Linked DNA regions of Homo sapiens. The protein of the gene in region 3 interacts with the protein of the main gene of each other region in a biochemical or structural test. Each region holds a gene or a part of one and is shown on either strand. Other genes may lie near its edges.

The links. Proteins that work in one complex are often made in the same cells at the same time.
Region 1: the proteins of HTT (region 3) and HAP1 form a complex in vitro, tested with the Homo sapiens proteins (4 studies listed by BioGRID).
Region 2: the proteins of HTT (region 3) and SP1 form a complex in vitro, tested with the Homo sapiens proteins (2 studies listed by BioGRID).

What each region holds. Positions count from the first base shown.
Region 1 is NC_000017.11:41,731,639-41,739,144, forward strand, and holds the start of HAP1 (huntingtin-associated protein 1), read right to left. Parts: upstream 3,006-7,506; 5' UTR 2,997-3,005; coding exon 2,528-2,996; intron 1,161-2,527; coding exon 1,081-1,160; coding exon of another isoform or gene 1,057-1,080; intron 757-1,056; coding exon 592-756; intron 481-591; coding exon 299-480; intron 106-298; coding exon 1-105. UniProt on the Homo sapiens protein: Originally identified as neuronal protein that specifically associates with HTT/huntingtin and the binding is enhanced by an expanded polyglutamine repeat within HTT possibly affecting HAP1 interaction properties.
Region 2 is NC_000012.12:53,375,301-53,383,180, forward strand, and holds the start of SP1 (transcription factor Sp1), read left to right. Parts: upstream 1-4,875; 5' UTR 4,876-4,991; coding exon 4,992-4,998; intron 4,999-5,343; exon of another isoform or gene 5,344-5,384; intron 5,385-6,358; coding exon 6,359-6,513; intron 6,514-6,809; coding exon 6,810-7,880. UniProt on the Homo sapiens protein: Transcription factor that can activate or repress transcription in response to physiological and pathological stimuli.
Region 3 is NC_000004.12:3,203,681-3,210,699, forward strand, and holds part of HTT (huntingtin), read left to right. Parts: intron 1-326; coding exon 327-468; intron 469-2,815; coding exon 2,816-2,995; intron 2,996-3,126; coding exon 3,127-3,303; intron 3,304-3,600; coding exon 3,601-3,677; intron 3,678-5,092; coding exon 5,093-5,231; intron 5,232-6,146; coding exon 6,147-6,269; intron 6,270-7,019.

The sequences.
Region 1 (7,506 bases), on a different chromosome or scaffold from region 3:
TCTTCTCTCAGCTGATGATTCTCCTCCTCCAGCAGCCTCAGCTTCTCCTGCAAGGCTTCCAGCTGTGGGCAGTGGTGCTGGTGCAGCAATGCCTCCTGCGAAATCCTAGGGGAGGGAGGAATGGGAGTCAGGGTGCAGGGAGTGGGGCTTCCCAGTTCCCAGCCCACCAGGGCTAAGGGCAGTGTTCTCAATTAGTTCCAGCAACCCTGCCAGCAAGCACATCACCTGTGTCCCTCTTAACAAATGAGGAAATTGAGGCTCAGAGAAAGGACTTGCAGGTGCAAAGGCAGGAACTCACAGCTTAGGGGCATCACAGGGATGAGCACACTGCAGGTCTTCCTCTGCTTCTTCTTCTTCCTGTTCCTCTTCTGCCTCCTTTTCTTCCTCCTCCTCTTCTTCATCCTCATCCTCCTCATCAGAATCTGAGTAGAGCTGGAGGAGCTCATCCCGCAAGTTCACCTGGTGTCTGAGGTATAAAATCTGGCAGGAAGAGAGAGGAGCCATGGGTTGGGAGTGGGCAGGGACAGGAGAGGGTCCTGGCATGAGGCAGGTGTAGATTGGCCCGCTATCCTCTCCTCCCCACCCGGTTACCTCCTCCTTGGCTGAGCCCAGCAGGGCTTCCAGCTTGCTGTTCTCCTCCATCAAAACACTGTTCTGTTTCACCAGGGACTGGCCGATGCGAGCTGCAGTGTTCAGGTCCCTCTCTCTCTGCAGGACCATCCCATAGGTAACGCTCTCCCAGACAGGTGGGAGAAGCTGGGGGGGACACAGGGGTCAGAGAGAGGCTAGGCCCCTAAGAGAACCTTCCCCATCCCCTAGTTCTCTAGGGTACCAGACCAGAGTCTGCCATTAACCCACTGTGGAACCTGGCTCAGTTTCCCCTCATGGAAAAAGAAGATCAGACCAGATTGGCTCTGAGAGCTCTTCCAGCCTGAACATCCCACATCGACCTGTCTTCCATAAGAAGGACCCTAACCTGGGGCCCCAGAGAGACTGCCAATCAGGAAATAAACAAGACCCCCACCCCTACAGGACAAAACTAGAATAAGGGCTTGCCTGGATCAGGAAGGCAGTACACACCTCCTCCAGCAAATATAACATCACTTTGACGTCTTCCTGGGTGATCTTTTTGACTGGCGGAGGTAGGTTAGGACACAGTGCTGCAGGAGGCGGCAGGTGGGGAGAAAAGGCCCAGCCAGGTCAGGAAAAAGGAGCAGATGCTACCAGCAAACAGCTGTTTCCCGTCCTATCGTCAGTTCTCCAACAAGGGTCATCGGGAGAGAAGACTGGGCTCCCCTCCTGCCCCCCACATCCTCCCCTTACCCCTCGGCACTCAACACTCCCTTCCCTGCTCCCAGGGCCAAGTGGACAGGGTTTTTAGGTTTTTGGGTTTTTTTTGGTTTTTTTTTTTTTTGGTTTTTTTTTTTTTTTAGACAAAGCCTTGCTCTTGTCCTCCAGGCTGGAGTGCGATGGCGAGATCTCAGCTCACTGCAACGTCTGCCTCCCAGATTCAAGCAATTCTCCTGCCTCAACCTCCCGAGTAGCTGGGGTTATACACGCCCGCCACCACGCCCAGCTTATTTTTGTATTTTTAGTAGAGACGGGGTTTCACCATGTTGGCCAGGCTGGTCTCGAACTCCTGACCTAGTGATCCGCCCGCCTCGGCCTGCCAAAGTGCTGGCTGGGATTACAGGCGTCAGCCACCGCGCCCGGCTTTTTTTTTTTTTTTTTTTTTTTTACCCCTGGAGGAGCCTGAGGTAAGGGGGTCACAGTCCTCCAGGCTCAGAAACTGGGCTCTCCGGACACCTGGGTCCCTGGCGCCTAGAATGGAGACAGCCAGGGGAAGTACAGCCTCAGACTGGCTCATCACCCCCTACCCAGGAGGCAGTGCAATGGAGTCTCCTGGGTCATACAAACAGACGCAGCCACTCACCCTGCACCTGTTGCGTGTGCAGAGGACAGGAGGAAGACTTCACCAGATTAGGAGACACTCGAGCCTCTAGGCCCAATCCAGAGATCTCCCCCGACCCGCAGGAGGATAGGAGAGACAAGGGGCAGGAAAAGAGCGCGACTTTGCCCCCATACCCGCAACCAAAAAGTGGGCAAAACTTCCCCCTCCGCCCGCCCACCCACCCCTCCATCGCACGCAAGCCCGGTCGGCCAGCGCAGACTCAGAGCGCGCGGGACAGCGCCCTCCCGCAGCCCCCCGCCCCTCTCCTGGCACTGCGGTAGACCCAGGAGAGGGGCGCTGAAGGGGTGCAGATCTGCCGCAGCAAGAGGCGCGTGGAGGTGGGTGGGCGAGCGTGCAGGCCCCAGAACCTGACTCACGGGCACAAACCAGGGGACAAGAGCAGAGGAGGAGATGGAGAAGGGGCGACCAGACAGACACCGCAGTGACATCGCGGGGGTGGTGGACGGGTGACACTGAGTGCTAGAGGGGGCGGGGTGCCTGGACCCGATGGGGCCACTTCCTCCCTGGAGTTGCCCCAGTCCCCACCCGGTCCAGGACCCCGGGGGCCCGATTTACCTTCCTCCAGCTCCCGAATAAAGGCGGCGCGCTCAGGGCCGGACACCCCGGGTCGCCGGCCAACGTAGGCGGCTGGCGTCTTCCAGATGCCCGCTGCCTTTCCAGTCCCCCGGCCAGTGGCCCGGGAACCAAACGGCCCTTGGAATACGAAGCGGGTCCACGGCGCGTCCGAATTGTCGGGCATAGACCGGACATCCCCTTGGATGGCCGAGAATGCGGACGGGCGCCGGGCTCCTGCCTTGGCTCCAGCCTCCGAGGCCGGGCGAGCTCCGGTGCGGGCTTCCGAGAGGAACTGGGATCCAGAGGTGGCTCGGGATCCTACTCTCTGTCCAGTGCCCCGTGCCTGCGGCTGCGCAGAGGGCTCCGGAGCGGGACTGGCTGAGGGCGAAGGTGCACAGGTGAGTGCTGCTGGGTCCCCGGGTCCGAGCCGGCTCCCCGCGCAGCACCGGCCCAACCTCTTCGGGCGCATCTCGAGTCTGCCGTCCGCTGCTGCGGCGGGACCTTTATAACCTGCGCCAGCCGCCGGGCCGGACCACGCGTAGGGGTGGGGGCTGCCGAGAAGCAACTAGTGGCAAGCGGGACTCAGAGCCGCGCGGGAGGGGAGCTAGTGGTGACGGAACAGAGCACAGTAAGAAAAGCAGGGCAAGAAGGGCGAGTGCAAGTTCCGGATGGCTCCGAGTTGGGATGGGAGCGAAAGATTTTTTCTGCCCTCTCCATCTCCGGAGAATGGTTCTGCCCAAAGCCGCGGCTGCCCCAGCACTCGCGGGTCCCTGGCTGGGGGCAGCCCCTCCCCAGCTGCCGCGCCGGGGTTTCGGGTGCCTTCCCTGGTGTAGAAGCTGCCAACCCAACGTTGTGCATACGGTCTGGGGTGGCCAGTGCATTAGGGCAGCGCTGCGTCTTTCCCGGTTGACTGGGAGAGACATTCCAAACTCCAGTGCGCTTCCAACGTGCTGCAACCCTGCCTGGCGCTGCAACCCTGCCTGGCGCTGCAACCCTGCCTGGCGCTGCAACCCTGCCTGGCGCTGCAACCCTGACCCTCGCGCTCACACCCCAGTGCTCGCGCCACTCGACGTCTTCCATTTGATTGGATTAACTGTTCTTCACCTCCAACCCTAGTTCGCTTTGCCCTCCTCTTGCCATGCTGGCGAACCCCTGTTCTCCTTGGGAGACGCCTCTTAAAAGTCTCCCTGTAGCCGGGCGCAGTGGCTCACGCCTGTAATCCCAGCACTTTGGGAGGCCGGGGCAGGCGAATCACCTGAGGTCAGGAGTTCCAGACAAGCCTGGCCACCTGGTGAAACCCTGTCTCTACTAAAAATACAAAAATTAGCCAAGCATGGTGGCGTGTGCCTGTAGTCCCAGCTACTCAAGAGGCTGAGGCAGGAGAATTGCTTGAACCTGGAAGGTAGAGGTTGCAGTGAACCGAAATTGTGCCAATGCACTCCAGCTGGGGCTACAGAGCGAGCCTACCCCTCAAAATAAATAAATAAATAGAATACTTTTTTTTTAAGTATCCTACTGGAAATGTTGGGTAGACAATTAGATGTATAAATCTGAATGTAGGGGAGAGACCGGGCTGGAGATTTAAATGTAGGAGTCATTGTTCTTTGATGACCATTTAAAGCTATGAGACTGGTGAGATCCCCAAGAGACTGAGAGAAGACAGGTAAGAGCGCCCAGGACTAACCCCCTAGGATTCAGAGGGCAGAAAGAAGAAGAGGAGGCATCAAAGGAAGACTGGGATGAGTGGGGCAGTGAAGTAGAGGAAAACCAGGAAAGTTGGGTCCTAGAAAGTAAAGAAAATGTTTCATGTAGAGAGTGGCCACCTGTGTTGGGTGGTGCTGTTGGGCCAGGCAAAGACTGAGGACAGAGACTCAGCTTGGCAAACTGGGGTCATGGGCAACCTTGGTGAGCTGGGGTCATGGCCTCGGCAAGAGCGGTCTTGCGGGGCCAGGCACAGTGGCTCACACCTGTAATCCTAGCACTCTGGGAAGCCAAGGCAGGTGGATCACCTGAGGTCAGGAGTTTGAGACCAACCCAGCCAACATAGTGAAACCCCATCTCTACTAAAATACAAAAATTAGCTCGGTGTGGTGGAACAAGCCTGTAAGCCCAGCTACTTGGAAGGCTGAGGCAGGGGAATTGCTTGAACCCAGGAGGCAGAAGTTTCAGTGAGCCGAGATTGCACCACTGCACTCCAGCCTGGGCAACAGAGCAAGACTTGTCTCAAAAAAAAAAAAAAAAAAAAAAAGAGCGGTCTTGGTAGAGGGGGTGAGAGAGACCAAAGAGGAGTGAGGAAATAACGAGAGGTAACAAAATGAAAACAGAAAGAAGGCTAGGCGCTGTGGCTCACACCTATAATCCCAGCACTTTGGGAGGCTTAGGAGGGTGAATTGCTTGAGCCCAGGAATTTGAGGCCAACCTGGGCAACATGGCAAAACCCTTTCGCTACAAAAAAATACAAGAATTGGCCGGGCGCAGTGACTCACACCTGTAATCCCAGCACTTTGGGAAGCCTAGGCGGGTGGATCGCCTGAGGTCAGGATTTTGATACCAGCCTGGCCAACATAGTGAAACCCCGTCTCTACTAAAAATACAAAAAATTAGTTGAGCATGGTGACGGGTGCCTGTAATCCCAGGTACTCAGGAGAATCGCTTGAACCCGGGAGGCGGAGGTTGCAGTGAGCCGAGATTGCGCCATTGCACTCCAACCTGGGCAACAAGAGCGAAACTCCGTCTCAAAAAAAAAAACATAGCTGGGCATGGTGGTGCATACCTGTACTACTTCAGGGGCTGAGGTGGGAGGATCACCTGAGCACAGGTCGAGGCTGCACTCCAGCCTGGGTGACAGAGCAAGACCCTGTCGGAAGGAAGGAAGGAAGGCGGGAGGGAGGGAGGGAGGGAGGAAGGAAGGAAGGAAGGAAGGAAGGAAGGAAGGAAGGAAGGAAGGGAGACAGTATAGAAAACTGTATTGAAGAAATCTGCAACAAAGGAGAGCTGGAAAAGGGCACAGGAGCTGAAGGAGGACATGAGTGCTGGGGAGTGTGTTTTGAAGATGGGAGAGAGGACAATATGTTTACATGCTGATGGAAATGTTCCCTCAGGGAGGAGAAAACAGGTGCAGAAAAGAGAGCTTATCTCCCAGAATACTTCTGGAAATGGAGGAACTTTCATAACATAACCGTTCTCCTCCTTGTTCAAAGTCTGCATGTTTTATTTTCTTTCTTTCTTTCTTTCTTTTTTTTTTCTTTTTTTGAGACGGAGTTTCGCTCTTGTTGCCCCAGGCTGGAGTGCAATGGCACGATCTCGGCTCACCACATCCTCCACCTCCCGTGTTCAAGCAATTCTCCTGCCTCTGCCTCAGCCTCCCCAATAACATGCGTCACCACATCCGGCTACTTTTGTCTTTTTAGTAGAGACGGGGTTTCTCCATGTTGGTTAGGCTGGTCTCGAACTCCCGACCTCACGTGATCCGCCTCCCCCTTGGTCTCCCAAAGTGCTGGGATTACAGGCGTGAGCCACTGTGCCCAGCCCAAAGTCTGCATGTTTCCTATGGTTTCTTTGTCAGCAGAAAGCTTGAAGGAGACACACAACCCCAGGGTTTGCTACGACAGTGAGGTTGAAGAACATAAGGAGGTGGCTGTTCGGGCATCGGCACAGCCCAGGCTTCCGTGAGGCTACAGCTCCATAGGCTCTGCCGAGTGGTCCTCCCACAGCCCAGCTTCCTGGACTGTCTCTCTGTGCCTTGGACATCTCTGCAGCCCCAACCACCAAGCACAGAACAGGGCATACAGAAGAAGCCTATTACACTCCTGCTGAATTAAATTGTTTCTGGCCCCATGAGGAAGAAGCCCTGGGAAACCCCTGGAGAGTTTGACGGGGAAGAAGGCAGAGGCAGTGGGATGGAGAAGACAGAGATGAAGTTAGGAGACCCTGAAAGCTCCCCCAGCTGACCACACCCTCTAGGTCAGCGCACTGGCAGCCAGCAACTCTGGCTACGGCCACCAGAGGGCAGTGTCAGCCCGTATACCTCCCCACGTGGCTTCCTCACCTACAGGCTCAGTCGCCCCACAGAAAGTGGAGTAGGGACAGAGACTCCATTTTACAAATGGAGAAACCAGGGCTCAGGGCCCGTCATTCTGGAAGTAAGCATTTTGGCCTGGCTGACAGATATCTGCCTTTCGACAGCCTAGGGCTGTCCAGGAGACTGGGGGTAGTCTCTGATCCAGGCCTCTCAAGTGGTTTTCCTCTGTCAACCACCCCCTCCCTCTCCTGCTTCTCATCTAGGGGGAGAAATCAGACACAGCAAAGACCCTTGGCCTCCTGTCCTCCCTCCCAGTGTGCATCCATGGACCCTCCTGGATCCGAAAGAGGATGGGAGGGTGCAGAAGACTTGCCAGGCTGCAAAGCCAGACCACCCACCACCTAATTGTGCACACCCCCTGAACCTGGGGCACATTCACTCCAGTGCCCAGCCCTGGGCAGCACACAGGTGGCTCAGGCCCCTCCTCCTGCCCCCTCCCCTGGCCTGACCCTGGGAAAAAAAACACCTGGAACAGGGTAGGTAATAGAAAGAGCCCCTAAGGGTCGGTGCCAGGGACCTGGGGGGGACAGGCACCGGGGTTACTTTCTGCAGGGGAGCAGGGTGGAGGGGCACCCTGAACTAGGAACAGGGGAGACCTCCTCACCCCCGCCGCAGTCCTGCTGTCTCCTGCAGGCCTTTCGGGGGCCCTCCCCCATCTCTGATCCAGGCCTTCCCCTCCAGAACCAGGCAGTGGCCGCCATAGCCCTCACCCCCACCCCAGAACCCAGGTACAGTCCCTCCTTACATCAGCAGAGAATGGGGGACTTGAGGGCCTAGGCCCTCAGAGGTTCCCCTTTAACTTTTCTTTTTGTTTTTTTGAGAGGGAGTCTCACTCTGTCGCCCAGGCTGGAGATCAGTGGCATGATCTCAGCTCACTGCAGCCTCCGCCTCCTGGGTT
Region 2 (7,880 bases), on a different chromosome or scaffold from region 3:
AGGTGGATCACAAGGTCAAGAGATCAAGACCATCCTGGCCAACATGGTGAAAACCTGTCTCTACTAAAAATACCAAAATTAGCTGGGTGTGGTGGCGTGCGCCTGTAGTCCCAGCTACTTGGGAGGCTGAGGCAGGAGAATCGCTTGAGCCCAGGAGGCGGAGGTTGCAGTGAGCCAAGATCACGCCACTGCACTCCAGCCTGGCAACAGAGCGAGACCCTGTACCCCCAACAAAAAAAAATGGTTGGGCCCGGTGGCTCATGCCTGTAATCCCAGCACTTTGGGAGGCCGAGGTGGGCGGATCACGAGGTCAAGAAATCGAGACCATCCTGGCTAACATGGTGAAACCCCGTCTCTACTAAAAATACAAAAAATTAGCCAGGCGTGGTGATGGGTGCCTGTAGTCCCAGCTACTCAGTAGGCTGAAGCAGGAGAATAGCGTGAACCCGGGAGGCAGAGCTTGCAGTGAGCCGAGATCGCGCCACTGCACTCCAGTGTGGGCCATAGAGCGAGACTCTGTATAGAAAAAAAAAAGATACGAATTTTAAGCAGGGCATGGTGGCTCGTGCTTGTAATCCCAGCACTTTGGGATTGAGCTCAGGAGTTCAACACCAACTGGGCCACATAATGAGATCTCAACAAAACATCAAAAAGTTAACCAGGTAGCCAGGTGCAGTGCCTCACACCTGTAATCGCAGCACTTTGGGAGGCTGAGGCGGGCAGATCAACTCAGGTCAGGAGTTCAAGATCAGCCTGGCTAACATGGTGAAACCCTGTCTCTACTAAAAATACAAAAATTAGCCAGGCATGGTGGCACATGTCTGTAGTCCCAGCTACAAGGGACGCTGAGGCAGAAAGAATTGCTTCAATCTGAAAGGCAGAGGTTGCAGTGAGCCAAAGTCGCGCCACTGCACTCCAGCCTGGGAAACAGGGCAAGACTCCGTCTCAGGAAAAAAAAAAATTGCCGGGCGCAGTGGCTCACACCTGTAATCCCAGCACTTTGGGAGGCCGAGGTGGGCAGAGGATCACCTGAGGTCAGGAGTTTGAGATCAGCCTGGCCAACATGATGAAATCTCATCTCTACTAAGATACAAAAATTAGCCAGGCATAGTGGCGTGCACCTGTAATCCTAGCTACTTGGGAGGCTGAGGCAGGAGAATCACTTGAACCTGGGCGGCAGAGGTTGCAGTGAGCTGAGATCGCACCACTGCACTCCAGGCTTGGAGACAGAGTGAGACTCTCAAAAAAAAAAAAGAAAAGATAGACACTGCGTGTGTGCATGTAAGGGATCTGAATAGCCTTGATATAAGTTGGTTTTTTTGTTTTTGTTTTTTTTTTTCAGTCTAAAGAACACTTTTTCAGGTTTTTACAGAGCAATTGGACAAGATGGATCATGTCATTCATTTGCTCTCAGGGACTATCAATAAACTAGTATACGTCTAGGGCATTCCTCACTGGCCTCATGCTGAATTGTCTTCTTCTGGAGGAGCAAAGGGGAAAGGATTGTAAAAAGGATGATGGCTATTGAATTTCTGAATTTAGGTCTTTTTGTCAGTTTAATTTTATCCTAATTCCCAATTCGGGTGTAGTCTAGGACTATGGAAAAAACACAGGCTTTGGAACTAAACAGAACAGTCATAATTTAACTAAAATATCTGAGCCTCAGTTTTCTCATCTGTAAAAGGGGACAACTATCTCTTAAATTGGTAGGAATAATTAAATTAGATAAATATGTGAAATGTTTAGAATACTCCTCCACGGTGTTAAGTTTCCTCTCCCTACCTCCACCCCTAAGCAAGTTTAGGTATGGACAGTTGCTGAATGGACTAAACAGCTATTAGAATCTTCAGAGCTTGGTTTACAAAGATGAGTAATGCAGTTTCTTCCTTCCAGGAAATTTCTCCCTTTCTGGAAGTTTCTTTTCCCCAGTTTCTTCTCTTGGTGTTTTTGTTTTGTTTTGTTTTCTTTTCTTTTCTTTGAGACCAAATCTTGCTCTGTCGCCCAGGCTGGAGTGCAGTGGCATGATCCCCGGTCACTGCAACCTCCGCCTCTAGGTTCAAGCGATTTTCCTGCTTCAGCCTTCCGAGTAGCTGGGACTATAGGCATGCACCACCACGCCCGACTAATTTTTGTATTTTTAGTAGAGATGGGGTTTCACCATGTTGGTCAGGCTGGTCTCGAACTCCTGACCTCCAGTGATCTGCCCGCCTCTGCCTGCCAAAATGCTGGGATTACAGGCATGAGCCACTGCGCCCAGCCTTCTTGGTGTGTTTTAAACTAGGTTTAGGGCCTAATCACTTGAAAGAGCTACTTAAAAATAGGTTTAGGGTGGAAATCTAGGAATCTGCCTTTTTTGAAAAAAGAACCCAGAGGATTCTGAGAGTGTGTGACATTTCATTTTGAGAAACCTTGATACAGTGAGAGATGAAATTAATTGTCATGTATTCTGATAAATTTTATAATAAAGGTATCTAAGAGGATGATGCCATTTGATCCGTCCTGGGAGTAGGCTTTTTTTTTTTTTTTTCAGGAGCTAGACAGTAAAAATTAAAAAGCATCTATATATTTACTTTTTTTTTTTTCTTTGAGATGGAGTTTCACTGTCGTTGCCCAGGCCCGAGTGCAATGGCACGATCTTGGCTCACTACAACTTCTGCCTCCTGGATTCAAGCGATTCTCCTGCCTCAGCCTCCCAAGTGGCTGGGATTACAGACATGTCCCACCATGCCTGGCTAGTTTTATATTTTTAGTAGAGACGGGGTTTCTCCATGTTGGTCAAGCTGGTCTTGAACTCCTGACCTCAGGTGATCCGCCTGCCTCGGCCTCCCAAAATGCTGGGATTACAGGCATGAGCCACCGCGCCCAGTCTATATATTTACTTATTTTGGAGCAAGGTCTTGCTTTGTTGTCCTGGCTGGAGTGCAGTGGCAGGATTTGAGCTCACTGCAGCCTCAACCTCCTGGGTTCAAGCGATTCTTCCACCCCAGCCTCCCGAGTAGCTGGGACTACTGGCGCACATCACCACGTCTGGCTAATTTTTGTTATTTTTTGTGGAGACGGGGTTTCACCATGTTGCCCAGGCTGGTCTTTAACTCCTGGGCTCAAGCGATCCGCCCGCCTCGGCCTCCCATAGTGCTGGGATTACAGGTCTGAGCCATTGCGCCCGGCGGCAGTTTAATTCCCTCAAGAATTTATAGAAAACTTTTGGTGGAACTATTCTGGGTTGGAATCTAACACTACAACTCATTTGCTTTGTGACCTTGGGTAAGTCACTTCTCAGCCTAAATGTCTTCACTTATAAAATACATAATATAGCTGATACTTAATAAAATCTTCCTTTTAAGGATGACATGGAATACTAACTGCCTCCCTGACTTAGGCACCTAACACGGTAGGCAGTCAGCAATCACTTCACCTTTTTACCTGTTTAAAGCAGCAGAGGCCTCAGTTCTTACCTTCAAAGGGCTTAAAATAGTTTAGGAGAATTCACATTTTAAAACATAAGAACATATAAGCAGGTGACAACATATAAGATACAAATACTGAAGGACATGACCTCATCGTGTCATTGACAAGCTATTAAGGCCGGCTCCACCAAAACACGGATAAAGAGGAGGCCAGAAATCCAGGTGCCTGCAGTAAAGTTTCTTAACCTTCGTGATTGCAAAAAGCTGGAGCTCAGCTATCTTGCTTTATGCATAGGCGGTATTTACTATTAAGGGGGAAAAAATGGAAGTGACTTATCCGCACTTTAGCCTCAAGGCTTGAAAAGTTAACCAGTCGTTTAAGTGGTTAGCGCCTTTGTCTGGGGGAACTTAATAAAATCGCGTTTTCTGGAGTCTCACGGAGACTCTGCATATTGGTCAGCTCAGTATTAACTTATTCGGTGAGTGCTGTCACCAGATCTCGTCCCGCCTGCATTCCCAGGGCTTGCAGCGACATTGAGGCATCTGCCCGCCTGTCCGACCACCCGGGAGGGGGGTAAGATTTGAGAGGTACTTTATAGGGGCAGTTAAATGAAGACGCAAACAAGTCCTAGTGTTGATGCGGAACTGCGCGCCGAATGCCTTGGCTCTGACACCTGTTGAGCTGCAGGACTCCGCTAAAGCGTCCCACCTAATGACTGTAACAACGTCCCCTGAGGAGGGCCAATATGGCGACGGTCTCCTCTTGGCATAGCCCTCTTCCCTCCCTCATGATGGGCAGCTCCAGTAACGCCCATTGGCTAACTAGGAGGCGGTGCCAGGCCTACTTCGTCCCCTCATTGGATTGAATAACTGAGGGAGCCGCCAATTCTCCTCTGCCACTCCAAGTTTCCGCCCTCAGTTAATTCGGCGTTTAATTGGCTTTTAGTTCACGTCAATATGCGTCCTTTCCTGTCTCTTTTCAGTCTAACTCCAATCATAACGTTCCTGGCTGCCCGCCTGATTTCTGATTGGTTTTAATCAGCTTCATCCTCTCCTATTCCTGCCTACTTCTTACCTCTCCGCCCACTAGGATTTTGCCCAAGCATATCCCGGATTCTGGTTGGCCGTTGTTCTGTCATTCCTATCAAAGCTTTGCCTATCCCTACGTCTCAGGGAGCCCGCCTGCCGGTTGACTGGTTTCCTTCCAAGCCAATCATCTCCAGCTCCCGCCCATCTTCACTTCCTGCATCCTTCATTGGCTTTTAACACTGAGAGGGCGGTCTTTTTAGGCGGACACCAGGCACGCAACTTAGTCTCACACGCCTTGGAGAGCAAGCGAGTCTTGCCATTGGATAATTCCACCGTCTTTCTTCTGCAAGTCCCTCCTTTCCCCCTCCCTCATTGGGCGGGGCAGCAGAGAAGGGGCGGGGCCTAGGTTGGGCTTGTGGCGCGCTGCTCCCTCCTCCTTACCCCCCCCTCCCTGTCCGGTCCGGGTTCGCTTGCCTCGTCAGCGTCCGCGTTTTTCCCGGCCCCCCCCAACCCCCCCGGACAGGACCCCCTTGAGCTTGTCCCTCAGCTGCCACCATGAGCGGTAAGGATGAGTCCACTCCAAGCTTAGGGGTGGGAGGCGAGTGAGGGGGCGCGCGCGAGGGCCGACCGGGCGATCCCCGCCGTGAAGCGGGGGCGGGCGGGAGGCGGCGGCGGCGGCGGCCTAGGTCCCGCCCGGGGCGGAGGGAAGGGAGGGAGACGGGGCAGTGGCGGGGCCTCCGAGGAGGAGGGGGATGGGCCGCCCGCCCCGGGGGAGGGGGCAGCGTGGCCTCGCCCGCCCCCTGCCCGCCCCGGCCACGGGGGACGGGCCTTACCCCCCACTACTCGGCCGCCCGCCTGAGGCTCCTCCCGCCGGGGGCTGGAGCCGCGGGGGCGGCCCGAGCAGCGAAGGCCCCGCCCGGGCCAACCGCCTGCCTGGTCCGCCCTCTGGTCGCCGCCTGCTCCAAGGCCCTCCTCCCCCCACTTTCCGTAGATTTCCCTTCCCCCCCGCCCCCCACCGTCCCGCCCTTTCCACGCCCCTCACCCCGAAACCGCCCTTTCCCTCAGGGCCCGCCCTCCGCCCCGAAACCTTCTGACTACTAACCTGTAGATCCCTTTAGTTCCTTAGCAGTATTCACAAATGTTTTTCTACTCACACTTTTTACTTCTTTTTCCCCTCTCGTTACTTTTCACACTTGGATTTTTGTTTGTCTTTTTTTTTTTTTTTTTTTTTGAGACGGAGTTTTCGCTCTTGTTACCCAGACTGGAATGCAATGGTGCGATCTCGGCTCACTGCAACCTCTGCCTCCCGGATTCAGGCGATTCTCCTGCCTCAGCCTCCGGGAGTAGCTGGAATTACAGGCATGCGCCACCACACCCGGCTAATTTTGTATTTTTAGTAGAGACAGGGTTTCTCCATGTTGGTCAGGCTGGTCTCAAAACTCCCGACCCCAGGTGATCTGCCTGCCTCCGCCTCCCAAAGTAATGGGATTACAGGCGTGACCACCGCGCCTGGCCTCTCCATCTCTTTTAAACTTAATTTTAGCAAGCTTTCCATGCACCCACATGTTGTTTTATGCCTTACCTGTCCTTTTCCTTTTTTTCCCTTAGGATACTTTTTCTTATTTAGAAACTCTCACCATGCCTACCGTCCTTCACATTTCCTATCCCCAAAGCACTTTTTGAATGTTTTCTTAGTTTAATTTTGTACAAGGGAGAATTAAGGCCCACTTTTGGCACATTGAACCTAGTTCATGTCCTGCATGCCCTGCAGCTCCCCTCTGCCCTCCAATCCATTTTCTTTATACTGGTGGCTTTCGCCTTCCTGTTAGTCATTGCTATTTCATCATAGCCTCCTTTTATCCTTCCTACTTCATTTCTTTTCTTCCCTCAAGTTTACGTTGTTTGTTTTTTAATTATTTTAGACCAAGATCACTCCATGGATGAAATGACAGCTGTGGTGAAAATTGAAAAAGGAGTTGGTGGCAATAATGGGGGCAATGGTAATGGTGGTGGTGCCTTTTCACAGGCTCGAAGTAGCAGCACAGGCAGTAGCAGCAGCACTGGAGGAGGAGGGCAGGTAAGTGATAATCATAGAGTGGGGAAGGTGTTGAGAAGATGTAAATATTCTTAGATAATTGCCTTACTCTTCACAGAAAGCGTTTTAGGGAGAGACTAAACCATTTTATAGATAAGGAAGTAAGAGAATGGAGATCCCCAAAGACAAAGGAGTTTCAGCAATACAGATAGGTCAGCTTTTTGTTTCTGTTTTTTGCTCCTTGTCTGCACTACGTTGCTGTTTATTTGTTGTATACTGCCCCCTAGGCTGGCAGCTGGGTGTCACTAACTCCTTTCCTCTCCCTTATTTTCGGCCAGGAGTCCCAGCCATCCCCTTTGGCTCTGCTGGCAGCAACTTGCAGCAGAATTGAGTCACCCAATGAGAACAGCAACAACTCCCAGGGCCCGAGTCAGTCAGGGGGAACAGGTGAGCTTGACCTCACAGCCACACAACTTTCACAGGGTGCCAATGGCTGGCAGATCATCTCTTCCTCCTCTGGGGCTACCCCTACCTCAAAGGAACAGAGTGGCAGCAGTACCAATGGCAGCAATGGCAGTGAGTCTTCCAAGAATCGCACAGTCTCTGGTGGGCAGTATGTTGTGGCTGCCGCTCCCAACTTACAGAACCAGCAAGTTCTGACAGGACTACCTGGAGTGATGCCTAATATTCAGTATCAAGTAATCCCACAGTTCCAGACCGTTGATGGGCAACAGCTGCAGTTTGCTGCCACTGGGGCCCAAGTGCAGCAGGATGGTTCTGGTCAAATACAGATCATACCAGGTGCAAACCAACAGATTATCACAAATCGAGGAAGTGGAGGCAACATCATTGCTGCTATGCCAAACCTACTCCAGCAGGCTGTCCCCCTCCAAGGCCTGGCTAATAATGTACTCTCAGGACAGACTCAGTATGTGACCAATGTACCAGTGGCCCTGAATGGGAACATCACCTTGCTACCTGTCAACAGCGTTTCTGCAGCTACCTTGACTCCCAGCTCTCAGGCAGTCACGATCAGCAGCTCTGGGTCCCAGGAGAGTGGCTCACAGCCTGTCACCTCAGGGACTACCATCAGTTCTGCCAGCTTGGTATCATCACAAGCCAGTTCCAGCTCCTTTTTCACCAATGCCAATAGCTACTCAACTACTACTACCACCAGCAACATGGGAATTATGAACTTTACTACCAGTGGATCATCAGGGACCAACTCTCAAGGCCAGACACCCCAGAGGGTCAGTGGGCTACAGGGGTCTGATGCTCTGAACATCCAGCAAAACCAGACATCTGGAGGCTCATTGCAAGCAGGCCAGCAAAAAGAAGGAGAGCAAAACCAGCAGACACAGCAGCAACAAATTCTTATCCAGCCTCAGCTAGTTCAAGGGGGACAGGCC
Region 3 (7,019 bases):
CTCAATTATCAAACATAGCCAGTGTGAGTTCTGAAATAAAGGTGCTGATTGAATGTGCAGCTTTATGGTGGATTTTGCTATTCAGGCAAGCATTTTAATTTTCTGCCTGTTAAATTCTGTTTTCTTTAGTTTTTCATATGTGGTTTATTGTAGCTTAGGAATAGATAACTGAGAGTATATATTACACATACAACATTCTGATATGGCAATATTTAAAACAACTTGTCTGTTTTAGAACTAGAATTAAACATAATCATCTTCAGTATTTTGCAAATAAGCTCACTGCCATCCAGAAACATTGTCAATGCATCTGTTGCTCCTTCTAGAAGACACAGTCTGTCCAGCACAAAGTTACTTAGTCCCCAGATGTCTGGAGAAGAGGAGGATTCTGACTTGGCAGCCAAACTTGGAATGTGCAATAGAGAAATAGTACGAAGAGGGGCTCTCATTCTCTTCTGTGATTATGTCGTAAGTTTGAAATGCCTGTAAACGGGGTTGAGGGAGGTGGGGACCAGGAGAACATCCTGTGTAGATGACACTTGCATGGACCCTCTGGAACCCAGACCGCCCGGTGTCCTGCCAAGCTCCATCGAAACTAAATCTAGAATGAATGTTTACTTCTGCTGTGACATATAATTGGAGACCAGGCCTGGCCTTCCAGTCACTGGATTCTAAGTTGGACTGTGAGAGTTTTTGCAGCTGACTCATTTATCAAATGCCCGGCTATTGGCTCACGCCTACATGATGCTGGGTATGTTTGTTAATTTGAGGGAAGCAATGGAATAATAATAACTAATGATTTAAAAAACAAAGTAAGTGCATTGACTGTAGTGGGGTTCTGATTTTAAATTTTTTTAAAAATTAATACCAGGAGCAGTGGCTTATGCCTAAATTCCAGCAACTCGAGAGGCTGAGGTAGGAAGATCACTTGAGCCCAGGAGTTTGAGACAAGCCTGGGCTATGGTGTGAGACACCCATCTCTAAAAAAATAAAAAATAAAAAATTATCCAAGTGTGGTGGCTCGTGCCTGTAATCACAGCTCTTTGAGAAGCTGAGGGCGGAGGATGGCTTGAGCCTGGGAGTTCGAGACCAGCCTGGCAACACAGAGAAACCCTGCCTCTACCAAAAAAAGAAAGAGAGGAAGAAAGAAAAATTAGCCTGGCGTGGTGGTGCATGCCTGTGGTCCCAGCCACCTGAGAGACTGAGAAGGGAGGATTGCTTGAGCCCAGAAGTTTGAGGCTGCAGTGAGCTGTGACTGTGTCACTGCACTCCGGCCTGGGTGACAAGGCGAGACCCCTGCTCTAAAATAATTTTTTTAAGTTAATTTGTAGAAAAGGTGTTAGATGTTCTTTGTCACATTTTATGATGGATTCCTGTTTAAATGCCGTTCTCTTTAAAGAAAAAAAAATAACTTGTGGGAGTTTTTAACCATAAAACTAGCATCACATATTTACCATGGAGAATTTACAAAAAAACAAATAAACGGAGGAAAATAAAACCTCCTGTAATCATACTACTCAGAGATAACTTGCTGTTAGATTTTGGTCTAGATTTAATACTTTTTCTATATTTATATTAAAAATATTTAAAACATATGCATTTCTTTGTCACAAACATGGTATCTTATAGATACTACTGTCACATAGCAAAACAGTGTTAAATATTCTGAATCAGAAAAGGAAGCCGACTCTCCAACTGAAAGAGGTGTTATCCTAGAGACTTTTTCTGGTGATGACAATTTATTAATAGTCACTTTTTGCTTTACTTTCTCTATTGAAGTAGTTTTTCTATTTTGTTCTACTTTTAAGGATAATATAATTTATAATGCTGTTTTTCACAGAAATATAAGAAAAAAGATACTAATTTTATAAGTTAATAAAGTTTGATCATCCCAAATCCAAAAATCTGAAATCCAAAATGCTCCAAATTCTGAAGCTTTTTGAGTGCTGACATTATGTTCAAAGGAAATGTTCATTGGAAGGTTTCAGATTTTCGGATTTAGGGAGCTCAACAAATAAGTATAATGCACATATTTCAAAACCTGAAAAAAATCCTAAATTCAGAATACTTCTGATCCCAAACATTTCAGATAAGGGTTATTCAACCTGTACTGTCAGATGATCCCAAATGAAAAATATTAATCGTTAACCAAATATCAAGGAATTGATCACATTTTACAGTTTCTGCCTAGGATTATGAATCAAGATGAAAAGGCTCTGCATGTTTAAAAATATATATTTTTATTTTCTTATAAATCTTAAATATCTACACTTAAGATTTATTTGATATGTGGGATCCATTCATATTTTGGATTCAACAGTTCTGTCAAAACTGTGGCAGTGATAGGGGATTCTTTTTTTCCCACTGAACTATCACAAAATTGGAAAAAGAGTAATTGGAGAACCCCACTGGCTTAGCCGGCCCGAAGCCCGGGAGAGGGCAGGCAGTGCTGTGGATGGGGTCATCCCAGCGCAACGCTGCCCCTGCTACCTGCGGATCTCGCTGAGGCCTGCCTTTGTCCTTTGACCCTTGGCCATTTGTTAGTGTCTCTGAGAGCTGGACTGCTGTACCCTACTTCCCCAGGGGGCCTAACTTCACACAGCCTCTGCCGCAGTGCGTGGTTGGAGGTGACGGCCTTGGTAAATCGAGTTTCCTACCTCCTCAATTATTTGTGCTCATACACTGTATATTTTTAGTGAGGTTTATATTTGGGATGTGTTTTCTCCTTCTTACCCTTTCTGGCCTTTCTATGGCATTAATACCTGGTCTCTTCTTGTGTACTTGAAAATGAATCTCTCATCATATTTTTCCTTAGTGTCAGAACCTCCATGACTCCGAGCACTTAACGTGGCTCATTGTAAATCACATTCAAGATCTGATCAGCCTTTCCCACGAGCCTCCAGTACAGGACTTCATCAGTGCCGTTCATCGGAACTCTGCTGCCAGCGGCCTGTTCATCCAGGCAATTCAGTCTCGTTGTGAAAACCTTTCAACTGTACGTCTTCATCCTGCCGACTATTGCCAGTTGCAGTTTTCCCTGCCTTAAAAATGGAGTATTGAAATTTTTAACTTTAATTTCTGATTTGCAAAATAGTCATCTTTTGTTCTTTTCCTTCTTGCTGTTAGCCAACCATGCTGAAGAAAACTCTTCAGTGCTTGGAGGGGATCCATCTCAGCCAGTCGGGAGCTGTGCTCACGCTGTATGTGGACAGGCTTCTGTGCACCCCTTTCCGTGTGCTGGCTCGCATGGTCGACATCCTTGCTTGTCGCCGGGTAGAAATGCTTCTGGCTGCAAATTTACAGGTATTGGGAAGAGAAACCCTGATATTGATTTATATTGAAAATTTAGCAGGCCAAGCAAAACAGGTGGCTGGCTTTTTCCTCCGTAAGTATGGTCTTGACATGGTCACCGATAGAAACATGGAAACATCTGCAAACTTGCCGTTACTCGTGTGTCCGATCTGACTGTTTCTTGTATTTTTTTCTAGTCTGCCCTTACTAGGATGAACTGTACACATCAGTTCATCCTTTTTAAATGAGCATGAGGTTATTTTGGGTTGTTAGGTGTTACAAACACACTAATGTGTTTTTGTCTATTAGAGCAGCATGGCCCAGTTGCCAATGGAAGAACTCAACAGAATCCAGGAATACCTTCAGAGCAGCGGGCTCGCTCAGAGGTAATGCTGGAAACACAGGTCGTCCTTGTGTTAGGACAACCCAGGATATAAAGGATATAGATTTGTACGGGAATAAATTCACAGGACAAGAAATCGATGTGCCTTATAGGTGGGTTTACTGCAGAAGTGCCATAATAGAACCTTCCTACTTTTAAAACAACCAGATCTCACTTTCTAAAGAGTAAAGGATGACCGGCAGGATCACGTCTGTGACGTGAGTGGAGGCAGTTTGCACTCCTGGTGGCTGTTTGAGAGGTAGCATTTAGAATGCCTGTATTCACTGTCCTGTGATGAGTGGGAAAATAGGTTATCAGGTTTATCTTAGCAAAATCAAAGCATGTCATCTAATTGCTAAACAAGAGTTGGCAAATCTGAGAGACATTACTCAATCCTTGGCATGCAGGACTTACATCTGCATCCTGTTGCCATTTTATGTCTTCAAAGCATTTAATCATTTAGTTGTGTTTGCAAAGTCTTTGAGAAGCCTTTGTCAGAAATCCCTACATCTCCTATGTGAGTGTATTTCCATGACTGCAGAATAAGTTAAACTTTTACCTTTTTCCTTCCCTTGCGGGGCGGGGTGGGGGGCAGGGATTGTGTGTGTGAGAGGGAGAGAGAGACAGCAGAGAAGGAGAATATAATTATCATGCTGTGTACTTTGAGCTGAAACTGCAAAAAAGGAAAAACACACAAAAATTATTATGCTTTTCAGTCTTTAGAGTACCTTGTCTATTATGCTTTTCAGTCTTTAGAGTACCTTGTTGATGGTGTTTTTAAATGGGATTGGGCACAATTAGGTGGACAGTTTGGGATGATTTTTCAGTCTGTAGGGCCAAGCTCTTTTGTAATTTGCATTATGAAGTTGTCACTCTCATAGCAGATGGCGGGAGATAAACTATTATTACTTTTTGACCCTAGACTTAGTCTTCAGTCCAGATGAGGGAGATTAAAAGATTATAAATATCTTGTGCCAGATGAGGTGATTTTATTTTGAAATGACCATGAATTCCTATCAGTTGTCTTACTGGGATATTTGATAGTGGAATTTGTGCATTTGAGTCTTAGATGATCTGTTTTACATTTATTAAGAAAGCCTTTATTAGCTTTTATACTGTGTATTGCCTGTTGCAGTGTTTGAGTATAAATGAAATTTCTGGAAAATATTAATGGAGTACAAACTGTGATACTTAAAAGTAAACTAGGGCCTGCATTTGTATCATGACCTGTTTGAGTATTGATGAGAAGATAGCTGTGAAGAAAAAGGTTTAAACAAGTGTATTTTCCTTTAAGAAGCCACTAATAGTGCATCTCCTTAGAGTGTATATTTCTAGAATCCTAGTGTGCAGAGTTTAGACTAAGACTAAAAAAAAAAAAAAACAAATTATACTGTAATTTCATTTTTATTTGTATTTTAGACACCAAAGGCTCTATTCCCTGCTGGACAGGTTTCGTCTCTCCACCATGCAAGACTCACTTAGTCCCTCTCCTCCAGTCTCTTCCCACCCGCTGGACGGGGATGGGCACGTGTCACTGGAAACAGTGAGTCCGGACAAAGTAAGTGTCCAGCGTGTCTGCATGGGAGGCACAGGGCGCTGAGTGCCTCTGTCACCTGTGGCAGATACAGAGAGTGCAGAGGAGGTGCCGTGGACCCAAGGAGTTCTGGCGCTCGGCTCGGCTCAGTGAAGCTGTGGTTAGAGACGTGGGGGGCCATCAAGGTCTGAGGGAGCCAAGCAGTGCTGATGTGGGACCCTTTTGGTAGGAGTGTGGGGTGAGTAGTTAGTGGGTGAATCAAGGAATAGTCGGCCGTGGCCTGCAGGCCCCTGACTGCACAGGCCTTCAAGCACATGTCAATGCCGTTAGCCTCCCTCCATCTCCTCATACCTTCTGGCCACCTGTGAGTTGCACTGCCACTGCCAGCCATTCTGGTATGTTGTCAGCACCTCCACTGCTCATACCTCATGGTTAGGGACCACCTGGAGCCTTGGTAGAGCCTTGGTAGAGCCTTGGTACTCTACTTTCCTGGACAAAGTTCAGCTTATGAATATGAATTTAGATTTCAAAAACCAGCAGCCCAAGTATAAGAAAGCGAAGGTTCAGTCCTGCCTTCTTAGGCTCTATTCGCTAAGCACCTGCCCTGCCCTGGTTGCTGGGGAGAGATGAGTAAAGCAGACAACCCAGGAGAGGATGGCAAAGGGGCCGCTAACCCTTAGTGGTTTAGCTATATTTGGAAGGCCTATTGGAAGTTCACCAGGTGAAGGGGGAGGCTGTGAGGGTGCCCAGGCAGGTAACAGAAGTCCAAAGGGGAAAACCTGTGGTGTGGTGAGCCGTATAGCCACAGCCTGCCGGCCGGCAGCCCTCTCAGCCTAGTGCGGTGTTCCCAAGCACTGGCCTAGGCCTGTAGCTCCAGGGATGTGAAGTCCCCTTGAACGCCGCCCATCATGTTCCCCTTATCCATTTTTTTCTTCCCAGGACTGGTACGTTCATCTTGTCAAATCCCAGTGTTGGACCAGGTCAGATTCTGCACTGCTGGAAGGTGCAGAGCTGGTGAATCGGATTCCTGCTGAAGATATGAATGCCTTCATGATGAACTCGGTACGGGGGGAGCAGTGGAGGCAAGGAATCCTCAGCTTTTCTTGTGACTTCCAAGTGGGATTTGTCTCATCATCATGTGACCCACTTGTTGACAACACATGTTGGGGACTCCAGTCTGGGCAGGGACGGGATGTCGGAGAGACTCCACTCTGAATGGGGCCGGGAAGTGGGGAGGACTCCATTTCAGATGGGGTCGGGACATGGGGGTTATGCTGATCGAGACAGAAAAGCACATTGTTTCAGCCACATTAGAATCCACGGAGGTGTTGTTTTGAAATCCAGCTGGCCCCAAGGCTGGGTGTATGGTTTGGGATGAGAACTATCTGGCCTCCACTGGAGGAACAAACACAGGATGTTATCATCTAAGCTCCATGGCCAAGACAGAATGGAAGTCAAGGTTGCGTATTTGCCGTAGACTTCAACACAGTGTCGTAATGCGTGACGTCAATAACTTGTTTCTAGTGTCTTGGAAGTTGATCTTTAGTCGTAAAAGAGACCCTTGGATGCAGCGAGATTTCCTCTACTCACACCTCTGTTAGATGTAGTGAGGTTCTTCACCCCCCAACCCCAGATGTCAGAGGGCACCCTGCGCAGAGCTAGGAGGCCATGCAAAGCCTTGGTGTCCCTGTCCCTCACCCGTGGGCAGGTCCTGTGAGCAGTGGGGGGGCCACCTCTTGGGTATGGTGCAGCCATGGCCCAAGCAGGGCTTCTTCTCAGACCTACTAGGACGGGAGAAACCTCCTGGTGCTT